Regions from separate parts of the Homo sapiens genome. Here regions 1, 2 and 3 are each reported to be linked to region 4. Evidence: microRNA targets listed by miRTarBase, many of them from high-throughput screens and not tested one by one. Region 4 holds a microRNA gene; each other region holds the end of a gene's coding sequence.

The links. Region 4 holds the annotated microRNA hsa-miR-31-5p (AGGCAAGAUGCUGGCAUAGCU, at 1,106-1,126, opposite strand). A microRNA usually pairs through its seed, bases 2 to 8, with sites in the 3' UTR of a target mRNA and lowers its output. Matches are read on the target gene's strand: a 7mer-m8 pairs with bases 2 to 8, a 7mer-A1 pairs with bases 2 to 7 and ends in A, and an 8mer does both.
Region 1: the mRNA of INTU is a reported target of hsa-miR-31-5p. Seed matches in the 3' UTR shown: 7mer-m8 at 2,849-2,855.
Region 2: miRTarBase lists TRIB3 as a target of hsa-miR-31-5p. The part of its 3' UTR that is shown has no 7-base or 8-base seed match.
Region 3: the mRNA of FAM193A is a reported target of hsa-miR-31-5p. Seed matches in the 3' UTR shown: 7mer-A1 at 2,420-2,426.

What each region holds. Positions count from the first base shown.
Region 1 is chr4:127,716,135-127,719,313 of GRCh38, forward strand. INTU (inturned planar cell polarity protein) reads left to right here. Exons shown (of 16, transcript NM_015693.4): 16 at 191-3,179. The coding sequence ends at 302. Among named protein-coding and RNA genes, the nearest start is that of SLC25A31, 13 kb to the right of the region's middle.
Region 2 is chr20:396,027-399,205 of GRCh38, reverse strand. TRIB3 (tribbles pseudokinase 3) reads right to left here. Exons shown (of 4, transcript NM_021158.5): 4 at 1,647-3,008. The coding sequence ends at 2,516. Among named protein-coding and RNA genes, the nearest start is that of RBCK1, 11 kb to the left of the region's middle. RefSeq lists an enhancer at 1-204.
Region 3 is chr4:2,731,209-2,734,387 of GRCh38, reverse strand. FAM193A (family with sequence similarity 193 member A) reads right to left here. Exons shown (of 21, transcript NM_001366318.2): 21 at 1,815-2,613. The coding sequence ends at 2,520. Among named protein-coding and RNA genes, the nearest start is that of TNIP2, 24 kb to the left of the region's middle.
Region 4 is chr9:21,511,053-21,514,225 of GRCh38, forward strand. It overlaps MIR31 (microRNA 31), which reads right to left and starts at 1,133; the gene lies at 1,063-1,133. All of the region lies in intron 1 of MIR31HG (MIR31 host gene), which reads right to left.

The DNA.
Region 1 (3,179 bases), not on the chromosome of region 4:
TTGACCTAAGGCATATATTATTTATTTAGAAATAAATCTAGCTGCTTTCTCCCTAGTATAGATTTAGATTCATGGATTTTAAATTTACTACTGATGCTTTCAGAAACAAAAATTAAATTAATTGGATGGTTAGAGTTTTTGTTGTTTGTTGTTTTAATTTCTGAAATGAGTGTGTTCTTTTCTTCTGCAGGAGACTTTTTCTTCATCCAAAACCTCAAGAACTTTATGTCTGTTTTCATGACTCAGTCACAGAAATTGCCATTGAAATAGCTTTTAAATTGTTCTTTGGGTTAACCTTGTAGCTGTGCTTTCTTGATGCGTAGAAACACGTGCATGGAGGATCAAACACTGTCAGAATTGCTGAAATCAATACACAAAGAGATAAAGTTTAGCTTCTTTTTACTATTCAATATTGAACATAATATTGTTAAATATTGAGATGAAATGCTGTTGGATTTGATACATTAAATCTTAATGTAATATTGTAAGACTTTTGAGAATATACTTGATTAAAATGTGAAAGAAGGGATTGTTAACTTATTGCTATTTTGGTATATAATGTTAATTTATTGACTAGTTTGAAATAATGTGAAGTGTTTTTTATATCAGATTAATATAGGAAATGTTTATTCTTGAAAAATACTCAATTTGTTGTTGTTTATTTTTCTCAAAATTCATACTGATATCTGATGAAATGATTATGAAATTGGGAGCAGGTGACCAGGTGCTGTAACTAAGTAGTGCTATGACCATGAGCAAGTTTTTGTACCTCTCTAAGCTCAGAGTTTTCATGTAAAATGAGATGATTGCATTGAGGTTTCAAAAATACCTCTTAAGTAAAATGTGCTTTTATTTTATTTTAGTTTTAGTTTTAGTTCTGGGGTACATGTGCAGGATGTGCAGGTTCGTTACATAGGTAAACATGTGCCATGGCGGTTTGCTCCACCTATCAACCCATCACCTAGGTATTAAGCCTAGCATGCATTAGCTATTTTTCCTAATACTCTCCCTACCCCCACAACAGGCCCTGGTGTGCATTGTTCCCCTCCCTTTGTCCATGTGTTCTCATGGTCAGCTCCCACTTATAAGTGAGAACCTACAGTGTTTGGTTTTCTGTTCCTGCATTAGTTTGCTGAGGATAATGGCTTCCAGCTTCATCCATGTCCCTGCAGAGGACATGATCTCATACCTTTTTGTGGCTGCATAGTATTCCATGGTGTATGTGTACCACATTTTCTTTATCCAGTCTATTGCTGATGGGCATTTGGGTTGATTCCATGTCTTTGCTATTGTAAATAGTGCTTCAATGAACATATGTGTGCATATATATTTGTAATTGAATGATTTATATTACTTTGAGTATAAACCCAGTAATGGGATTGCTGGGTCAAATGGCATTTCTGGTTCTAGATCTTTGAAGAATCACCACACTGTCTTCCACAATGGTTGAACTAATTCACATTCCCACCAACAGTGTAAAAGCGTTCCTATTTCCTCACAGCCTCGCCAGCATCTGTTATTTCTTGACTTTTTAATAATAGCCACTCTGACTGGTGTGAGATGATATCTCATTGTGGTTTTGATTTGCATTTCTCTAACAATCAGTGATATTGAGCTTTTTTTTCATATGTTTGTTGGCTGCATGAATGTCTTCTTTTGAGAAGTGTCTGTTCATGTCCTTTGCCCAGTTTTTAATGCGGTTCTATTTTTTCTTGTAACTTGGTTTGAGTTCCTTGTAGATCCTGGATATCAGATCATTGTTGGATGAATAGATTGCCAAAATTTTCTCCCACTCTGTAGGTTGCCTGTTCACTCTGATGATAGTTTCTTTTGCTGTGCAGAAGGTCTTTAATTTAACTAGATCCCATTTGTCAAGTTTTGCTTTTGTTGCAGTTGCTTTTGTGATTTCATCATGAAATCTTTGCCCATGCTCATGTCTTAAATGGTATTGCCTAGATTTTCTTCTAGGGATTTTATAGTTTTGGGCTTTACATTTAAGCCTTTATTCTATCTTAATTTTTTGTATAAGGTATGAGGAATGGGTCCAGTTTCTATTTTCTGCATATGGATAGCTAGTTCTCCCAGCACCATTTATTAAATAAGGAATCCTTTCCCCATTGCTTGTTTTTCTCAGGTTTGTTGAAGATCAGATGGTTGTAGATGTGCAATCTTATTTCTGAGTTCTCTATTCTATTCCATTGGTCTATGTGTCAGTTTTTGTACCAGTACCATGATGTTTTGGTTATTGTACCCTTACAGTACAGTTTGAAGTTTGGTAGTGTGATGCCTCCAGCTTTGATCTTTTGGCTTAGGATTGCCTTGGCTATACAGGCTCTTTTTTTGGTTCCATATAAATTTTAAAATAGTTTTTTCTAATTCTATGAAGAATATCAATGGTAGTTTAATGGGAATAACATTGACTCTATAAATTACTTTGGGCAGTATGGCTATTTTCATGATATTGATTCTTACTGTCTGTGAGCATGGAATATTTTTCCATTTGTTTGTGTCCTCTCTGGTTTCCTTGAGCCGTGGTTTGTAGTTCTCCTTGAAGAGGTCCTTCACTTCCCTTGTTAGCTGTATTCCTAGGTATTTTATTCTCTTTGAAGCAATTGTGAGTAGGAGTTCATTCATGATTTGGATCTCTGCTTGCCTGTTGTTGGTGTATAGGAATGCTGGTGACTTCTGCACAATGATTTTGTATCTTGAGACTTTGCTGAAGTTGCTTATCAGCTTAAGAAGCTTTTGGGCTGAGACAATGGGGTTTTCTAGATATAGGATAATGTCCTCTGCAAACAAAGACATTTTGACTTCCTCTCTTCTTCTTTGAATACCCTTTATTTCTTTCTCTTGCCTGATTGCCCTGGCCAGGACTTCCAATACTATGTTGAATAGTGGTGAGAGAGGTCATCCTTGTCTTGTGCTGGTTTTCAAGGGGAGTGCTTCCAGCTTTTGCCCATTCGGTATGATATTGGCTGTGAGTCTGTCATAAATGGCTCTTATTATTTTGAAGTATGTTCCTTCAATACCTAGTTTATTGAGAGTTTTTAACATGAAAGGATGTTGAATTTTATTGAAGGTGTTTTCTGCATCTATTGAGTTAATCATGTGGTCTTTGTCTTTAGTTCTGTTTGTGTGATGAATTAAGTTTATTGATTTGCATATGTTGAACCAGCCTC
Region 2 (3,179 bases), not on the chromosome of region 4:
CAGCCTGGCCAACATGGCGAAACCCCCGTCTCTACTAAAAATATAAAAATTAGCCGGGTGTAGTGGCGCGTGCCTGTAATCCCAGCTACTCGGGAGGCTGAGGCAGAAGCAGAAGAATCGTTTGAAAACCCGGGAGGCAGAGGTTGCAGTGAGCCAAGATCGCACCACTGCACTCCAGCCTGGGTGACAGAGTGAGACTCTGTCTCAAAAAACAAAACAACAAAAACAAAACAAACAAACAAAAAAACACAATGATTTTATTTAGCTCAATTAGCTCATGACCTTGCGGGTCACTGGGCAATTCTAGCGTGGGCCAGCCTGGGTCAGATGATCTAGGGTGGCCGCTCTCGAGTATCTGCAGTTAGCAGGCTGTTGGCTGGGCCTCCGCACTTCCGCACATTCTTTTCCCTACGATCCCCTCCCTCTTTGAACCTGGTTTTGCTCAGGAGTCACTACCCCTCCATATGACGCATGAGCTCCACTTAGCTCGAGGAGTGCCATGGTTAGTGTAAGCACGTGCCCCATGAATGTAAGCTGGTGATTGGTCAGAAACGGCAAGTGATGCAGTTCTGACCAGTGAGATGTGTGGGAAAGTCGGTCAGGAGCGCTTCTGGGAAAGCTTCCTCCATCCCAAGAAAGAAATGTGGGAGCACCATTTTTTTTTTTTTCGAGACGGAGTCTCGCTCTCTTGCCCAGGCTGAGTGCAGTGGCGGGATCTTGGCTCACTGCAACGTCCACCTCCCGGGTTCAAGCAATTCTCCTGCCTCAGCCTCCCGAGTAGCTGGGACTACAGGCACGCACCACCACGCCCCGTCTCTACTAAAAATTTTTGTATTTTTAGTAGAGACGGGGTTTCACCATGTTGGTCAGGTTGGTCTTGAACTCCTGACCTTGTGATCTGCCCACCTCGGCCTCCCAAAGTGCTGGGATTACAGGCGTGAGCCACCGTGCCCAGCCGGGAGTAACTTTTATTGTGGGCTTATTATGCCAGGCGCTGCTTGTTCTAATTGCTTTATACAAAATAAGTCATTTAGTTCTCATAAGTTAGGTACTATCATTGTCCCCCATTTCACAGATGAAGAATCTGAGGCATAGAGTGGTTAAGAAACTTGCCAAGGGTCAAACAGCTATTGAGTGCTGGAGCCAGGATTTAATTCCAGGCAGCCTGACTCCAGAGTTCTGAGTTCTCAGGTACTACAATGACCCCTGGCTTCTTCCTCTGGTCATGGACCTCTTTAATGTGACACCTGCTGTAGCCATTGGGCCAGCAGTCTCGAGACAATACAGCCAAGAGACAGAAGGAGCCTGGAGAGCCGGGGTCCCTGTGCGCAGCTTTGGGAGTTGAATGGACCAGCACTGAAGCCCACCCTATCTGCTGACTTCTTGTTTTGTGTGAAACATATTTCCATCTTGTTGAAGCCATTTTGACTCAGAAAGTACCCTAATAGAGACACTGCTGCTGCCAGAAGAAACAGAAGGAGTGCAGGAAGACCCACTGGGCTCCAGGTAATCTGTTCTCACAAACCACTCAGCCCAGGTTAAGACACAACTCTACGGCCTTTCACCATGGGGGCCAGTTTTGAAGGCAGGAAAAACTGGTAAGAGATCGTTGGAAAGGATGGAAGAAATTGCAGAGAAAAATAAAATTATTTCATAATTCTCCTTTATTAGGCACAGGTAAACATACATACTCATGGTATCCAAAACCTAGAGTATGGACCTGGGATTGTGGACCCCAAGTGTCCCCAGAAGAGTCCCACCTGGGACTTTCCAGGTGGCCACAGGACAGACCCTGCCTAATCCTGTCCCTCAACCTTGGTGCTCAGGTCAGAAGCCCCATGGTTGACAGGCCTGGACCCTCATTCCAGAACAGTCTTGAGTTAGACAAGAACTAGCCTCATAGTTTGGATTCTTATCTCTGGCCCAAATCCCAGGCTTAGGCCTGGAAGGAGAATCTCTTAATCAAGAGGACAGAGATGCTGGGAACACAGTTCCCAGAGTGAGCTGGGCTTGGGTCCTGAGTTGCAGGGGAGAGGCCTGGAGCCTTTGGCACAGGGATACCTCCCTTTCTCTGAAAAGGTACAAGATACAAAGGCAGCTGGTTTGTTTGTGAAAGGGATTGTCCTTGGACAGAGGTGCCTGAGCACCAGCATCAGTGGAGGCCGACACTGGTACAAAGTGTACCCAGTGTAGACAGTGACCTATGGTCATGGAAAAGTGTTGTCAGCTCAAGGATGCCAGTTTGTCATCTCTGTGAGCAGGGAATATTGTCTCCTTTGCTCACTGCTGTACTCCCAGCACCGAGAACAGGGCTTGGCACCTGATAAGCACCCAAGCAGGAACTGCATGTGTGTGGAACAAAGCAGATGTGTACACAGCACACTCCACACAGGCTTCTGCCTTTCTCCCTTCTGGAAGGCACTGAAGGTTTGGCTCAGTTCAGAGGCAGGAGAAGGCTTGGAGCTACCCCCAAACTCAATCCACTGTTGGCAGCTGAGCGTGTAGTAGGGTGGTCCTAGCCATACAGAACCACTTCTCTGTCTCCCTCCTCTTCCCTGGCTTCGTCCAGCCCCAGTCCATCAGGGACCACCTGGGCAGCCTCCCAGAGATGGGATCGGGTTGGGGCTAAGGGCATCGGGTCCTGTCGCAGCCAGGGGTGCAGGAGGATGCCTGTGGCTGTGAGCCGTTCAGCTGGCTCCCGACGAAGGAGGCAGCGAACCAGACAGCGGGCAGGGGCCGAGAGGCCTGCAGGCAAGGCGTAGGCCCCGCGGCGGATCTTGCCGAAGAGCAGGACAGGCTCCGAGTCCTGGAAGGGGTAGTGGCCGGCCAGCATGGTGAAGAGCGCCACGCCCAGGCTCCAGACATCGGCTGCCTTGCCCGAGTATGAGGCCCGTGAGCTGAGTATCTCAGGTCCCACGTAGGCTGGGCACGCGTGCTTGTCCCACAGGGAATCATCTGGCCCAGTCAGCACGCAGGAGTCCTCCAGGTTCTCCAGCACCAGCTTCTTCCTGGGACATGGGGAGAAACAGAAGGGTCAGGTCCTACCCAGAACCCCCATGCCACCACCCCATGCTATCACCCTTGTGGCACCCACTTTCCAAGTGCCTGCTGGCCTTTGACAGACACAAGCCAGTCCTGTGATGTCTGATCCTGTTTTACAGATACCCAAGCCCAGGCTC
Region 3 (3,179 bases), not on the chromosome of region 4:
ATACAACTGTTCACTGTTAAAGTTTCCTTTCTAACTATTGTTATTGTTTCATTTCATGACTATTACAGGTTGAGTATGCCTAACCCGAAAGGTTCCAAAATTCAAATCCTTTTGAGTGTTAAGATGATGCTCCAAGGAAATGCTCATTGGAGCATTTTGGATTTCAGATTTTTGGATTAGAAATGCTCAATTGGTAAGCATGATGTAAATACTCCAAATCCAAAAAAGTCTGAAACTGGACACACTTCTGGTACTGAGGATGCCAGATAAGGGATAAGGGATACTCACCCTGTGCTACTGTGTGAGTCAAAAATGTGAGGCTCCCCTATGGCGGCCCCACCCTCCCCCACAGGGAAGTGATGTCATCAGGAACCCCAGGGGCTCCCATCAAGTCAGGGACCCTGGAGCTGGATGTCCTATAAGCACCCTGGGATGCTGGAAGGATGAGTGGTTTCCAGGGAAATAGAGGAAGATCCTTCCTGGCAAGGGCATGGCCAGGACAATGGCTGGGAGCCTGAGGGCCAAAGCTAGCAGGTGCAGGTCAGGGGCCAGAGCGGGCAGAGCTGTGAAGCCGCAGGCAGGGTTGCCATGGAGGTGATGGGAGTGCCCAGAACTGGGCATGTGCGGTGGGCGTCTGAGGGTCTCTAGGTCCCAGCATGATGCTTAGTGTGTCGGGGCACCCAGAGTTCCCCATCACCACTCAGGGCTGTGCAGTTCCCCTCAGCAACAGGCATGGTTCAGCACAGTGTTAAAGGCTGTCCATGGGGAGAGCAGGGCAGGTACTGGGGGCCTGGGCAGGCAGCTTCCCCATAGGGCGAGGCCCGGGCCTGGGCCTTTCCCCAGCCACCACCGCAGCCAGAAGAGGCAGCGGCTGGAGTCCCGGGGGCCTGCACTGGGGTTTCAAGGACACTACTGTTGCCGTGGTCATGGCCTGACCTGCTTCACTCTCTGCCCTATCATCCCACGAACAAAGGAACGTTCTCTTCCTCACACCTGGAAAAAAAAACAAGTGAGGAAAGTTCGTCGTGCTGCACCTCCCCTGGTTGGTGACCCTTTTCCAGCTTTCGTGCAATCTCCAGAGTTCTAGGACCTGCTGTCCCCACCTCATTCTCCTGCAAACCGGTGCCTGGGTGGGGGTGCCCTGGGCCTTGTCTCCCCTGACCTGCCTCGAAGCCTCCTCACCCTCCTCTGCCTTCCTGGTTCCACAGCTCGGGCCCCCATCCCATCTACTCACCCCTGCAGGGCCCTCACACAGGCTCTGTCCATGAACAGCAGTCCCCAGTTCCAGACCTCTCACCTGGGTGGCCGGTGGACATCCCAGACTCACCATCCAGAACTGGTCTCCAGTCCCACCTCCAGGCACACAGCGCAGGTCTTCACCTCTTTCTCCTACCTGCATCCTGTCCACCAGGAAATCCTGTGGCCTCATCGTCCGAATACCTCCAGAAGCTGGCTCTCCCTACCCTCTCCCCAACCAGGCCCTGCCCTATTCACCTTCACTCAGAGTGAAGTCATACTCTGATAGGGCACACAGAGACAGGCTGAACATGAGGCTGGGAGAAGTGGGAGCTACTGAGTGTTCTAGGTAGTAAGAAGTAACCAGGATGCAGCTCCTTGGGAGCTTTCTGTCTCCTGCTGCCTGCTCTGCCTGGCACACAGAGGATGGTGGGGGCACCAGGATGGGTGAGCCGTTGCCTGGAGAGACCTGGGACCTGCTCCGGGGTGGTGCCCTGGCTCCCCATGGCGGACACATCACCTACACGCCCTCTCCCGCTATCCCCCCACTCCCCCAGCAGAAAGAAGCAGCCGAGGTCTCCTGCTGTACTAATGTATTCCATCTTTCAAAAAGAAAGACATGATTTTAATATTACTTAACAATATGTTAAAAAAGTAGCCAGGCAGGCCTCCGTGTTAATACAGTCGTACACTCTATAACAGACTTGATGGTGTGAGTACTGGGTGGGCTTGTTTTTAACTTTCTCGTTCTGCAAGGGATCTTACACAAGCTGGCTACAAGTCAGGGGGATCAAACACAAACAGCGCAACGTGTACACTCGGAGACAGTAGATTGTGGAGAACAAAGGAGGCCTGCCCCGCCCAGCCCGCCTAGGGTGAGACGCAGGGGCACAGGAGAGCTGAGTGACGGCCGATACCCCGGTGAGGACACATGACAGGACAGGGCGCAATGCAGAGGCAACGGAGCCACGTGGATGATGCAAACTCCTATCTGGCCACGGCCCAGGCCTCCGAGGCCGCGGTGGTGGGAGGACTTGGCGGGAACTACTGTTCCAATCCGACAGCACAGAGCTACAATCGAAGGAGTCTCACGCACAGACTACACGCACACGAGCTAACGGCGTGGGCCGAGCATCAACTTCTCGGTCTGGGGTTTCAGGCAGCACCAGCTCCGCACAGCCCTTGGCAAGCACCACGGCTCTGGGGCGCCAGCGAGGGGCGTGGCTCTTGGGGTGGTGCAGCCTGGCCTGCCTCTCGCGTGTCCCTCTCCAGGGAGTCCTCATTCAGTGGGCAGCAAAGGTGGCTTTTTTCAAGCTAAAATTGGACCAGTTGATAGACAGTCTTTGTCGGGTCTGTCTAGCAGAATCCAAGCAGAACCTGCAAAGACAAAAAGCCAAACAGTCACTGAAGGAAACAGCCCACAACCAAGCTGGTGCTTGGCAAAGCCCATCACACTCCTGTTCTTGCCAGAAACTCACTGCGGGGTCAGGGGTTTAGATTCTCGGTGAGGGGCACAGTGTCAAGGGTCCCCTCCAGGCCCTGCTACAGGCTGCACTTGAGAAGGGGAAAGGACTCGGGAGGAGGAATGGGTGGGCGGAAGGAGTCCTGAGAAAGAAAAGAAACGTTTAATCTGAGAGCTGTGAGCGCCCTTAAATTATCAGGCCCAGGCAGGGTGTGGTGGCTCATACCTGTAATCCCAGCACTTTGGGAGGCTGAGGAGGGCAAATCACTTCAACTTAGGAGTTCGAGACCAGCCTGGGCAACATGGTGAAATCCTTTTTTTTTTGAGACAGGGTCTCACTCTCTTGCCCAGGCTGGAGTTCAGTGGCAGTTTCGGCTCACTGCAACCTCCACCTCCAAGGTTCAAGCAATTCTCTGCCTCAGCCTCCCAAGTAGCTAGGACTACAGGCATGTACCACCACACCGGTTTTTTTTTTTTTTTT
Region 4 (3,173 bases):
TTACAAAGAATTCTACATGTACTATCGTTCTGGCATAGAATTTCCACACATTTCACATAAAATCCCTTGTCTCTAACTAAAGAAAACTTTTTTCTTAGTAGTGAAATAAATGTGTTGAGTGTCTACTGGTATGCATATATCAAGAATTTTAGAGACACTAAATTTTTAGACATGTGATAAGAATCATCTGACTAAAATACCTTATTTCCTTATCTTGAGGGTCCTATGGAGTCACTATTATTACTCTAATTTTACATTTGTGTAAACTGTGGCTCAGAGGTTAAATGACTTAAGAACGCACCAGTAATGAGATTTGACCATAAGTTTTACTTTGAAGCTCATGCTTTTCCCAATAAAATATGCTGACTTCCACAAGTCTATGGATCCAATGACACATTTACTGTGACTGCTTTAAAGAGTTAGGTTTGCAGGCCCAGAACTCAACATTATCTGTTTATTTCTTTATTATTAGTTTTGTGCCAGGGATTTCACCAAAGACATTTATAATGCAAAAACTATAATTATTTGATATCTCTTTTGCATCAGGGTAGAGTTTCAAAAATATGTATTGAGAACCTACTATGTGTCACACTCTAAGGATACAGTGGTTATCCCTAACAAGGTCCCTAACCCTCAAGAAGCTTACATGGTAGTGCGGGAGAAAAGACACTAAGCAAGTAAACAAATACGTTTCAGGGAGCACCAATGTTTCTGAAAAAGCAGAGTAATGGGATAAAGGGTGACTGAAGTGCTGGAGTATTTTAGATAGCATGGTCACAGAAGGCTTCTCTGAGGAGATGATATCCTCGCTGAGGCCCAAATGATGAGAGAAAGGTAGGCAAGCTAAGAGGCAAGAACATCCTAGGTGTGTCCAAGGAATAGCCATACAGGCCAATGTGGCTAGCATGGAGTGAATTCATGGTAGGACACAATACATAGCAGGACAGGAAGTAAGGAAGGTGAGAAAGGCCATGTCATGGAAATCCACATCCAAGGAAGGGCGCACATACACAGCAATACACGAAGGACTGGCATGCAGGTGGCCATGGCTGCTGTCAGACAGGAAAGATGGCAATATGTTGGCATAGCAGGTTCCCAGTTCAACAGCTATGCCAGCATCTTGCCTCCTCTCCAGTTCCAAGTTACAGGAGAATACTATGACTCTTCAGTGTTTTACTTTTCCAAAATTTTTCCTTTCACCTGAGGGAGGGAAAACACACTCATTAATTGAAAGCGCACTTATTTCTGATCATAACAACATAGTCTTCCTTAGAGTGTCCGCTTTTGAAGATGTAGTTAGGCACAGGAGGTTTGTGGGTAGTTCCATTTTTTTAATGGTCTTTGATCTAAAATGAACCTCGAGAATGTTTATGGACTACTTGTGAAACCACAGGGATGAAATTGTGACAAAAATTTTATTAAATCAATAATGTCTAAAGTTGATGACAGTTAATTATAGGCTATTACCACCATATTTATAGTCCACAAAATATCCCAGTGACTCTCAGTACAATTTTATTTTTACTCTAATAACTTTACTTGGTCAATTTCTGCCACTCAGATGTATTTAAACAATAACAAACTGTGGCTCAGCAGTGTGTAGTTAGTTCACTGCTTTATGTGCTCTTAAAAATAATGTTATTTTTGGATTTTTTTAAAGACATTCTTGCTCTGTCATCCAGGATACAGTGCAGTGGTGCGACCATAGCTCACTGCAGCCTCAATCTCCCAGGCTCAGGTGAATCCTCCCACCCTAGCCTCTCAAGCAACTGGGACTACAGGTGTGTGCCATCACTCTTTTTTTTTTTTTTTGTATTTTTAGTAGAGACAAGGTCTCGCTATGTTGCCCAGGCTGGTCTCAAACCCTTAAACTCAAGCCATACTCCTGCCTCCACTTCCCAAAGTGTTTGGATTACAGGCATGAGCCACCATGCCCTGCCAAAAATAATGCTCTTTTGAGCCAAAAATTCCCAGCTAGAAACTTATTTCACAAGTACATTTGCAAAAGTACCACTAAGTTCTAGGTCCAAGGATGTTCACTGCAACACTGTTTTTAATAGTAAAAGATTGGAGACAACTTGAACACTCATCAGTATGATTGATACAGGCTAAATAAATAATATAGTTATACAACAGAATATTTGGTGGTCCTTACAAAACAGTAAGGCATAAGAATAATGACATTATGTATAACTTTTGTGCAAGTGAAAATGTATACACAGACACATACCTGGAGGGCATACATACATGTTTTTTATTAAAGGATAAATGAGCAATTTATTATTTTAAATAAAAAAATTGGATAGGATTATAAATTATGTTTGCTTTCCTCTTTAATATGTCTCTATTAAAAAACTAGTAAGTAATACGTATTATTTACCCAAAATGGAGTGTAAGGTAACCTATAAAGGTAAAACATTTTGTTATATAGTGCTACCAAGGTATAGATAAGGAAGAAGCATACTCTTTTAAATATGATTCTAGTATCAATTGCCTTTGCCAGAAACAAAAGTCCAGCATTACCTAAGCCTGGTACTAGATATACACATATGCAGTCACCCACGCATATACAGTATGTGGTGTCTGTTCTTGTGAGGGTAGGAACTTATGAGTGTTCTATTGCACAAAAGCCTGTAACATCTTGTCCTGAGGCTAGGTAACTTGTGGAAGAGGTACTAATTGACTTCCTAGGATACAATTCAACTTAATTGCATGATCTATTAATGTAAGGGTATTTAGGAATTTGGGGATCATTAAGTACAGAGCATTGAATCAAAATTAATGGCAAATGCAAAACAGGTTAGGTAACAAAATTCTGAATTGAGAAGATTTAACTGAATAAAGCTTCTCCAATAAACTCATTATTTTAAAAAATATTACTAATATCTGATATTCATAATTAAGAGGCAGGTACAAGCTGCATCATTTTAGAAGGTATATGGTACATATTTGAAAACAGTAATTTCTTGTGACTTTTTTCAGTTCCATTTTGCACATAAAAATTTCAGATTCAAGGCCAGGCATGGTCTTGAGTACATCTCAGAACTTTTGAAGGCCAAGGTGGAAGGATCACTTGAGGCCAGGAGATCAAGATCAGCCAGAGAAATATAGCAAGATTCCATCTCTACTAAAAATAAAAATAAATTAGCCAGCTGTGGTGGCATGCACCTGTA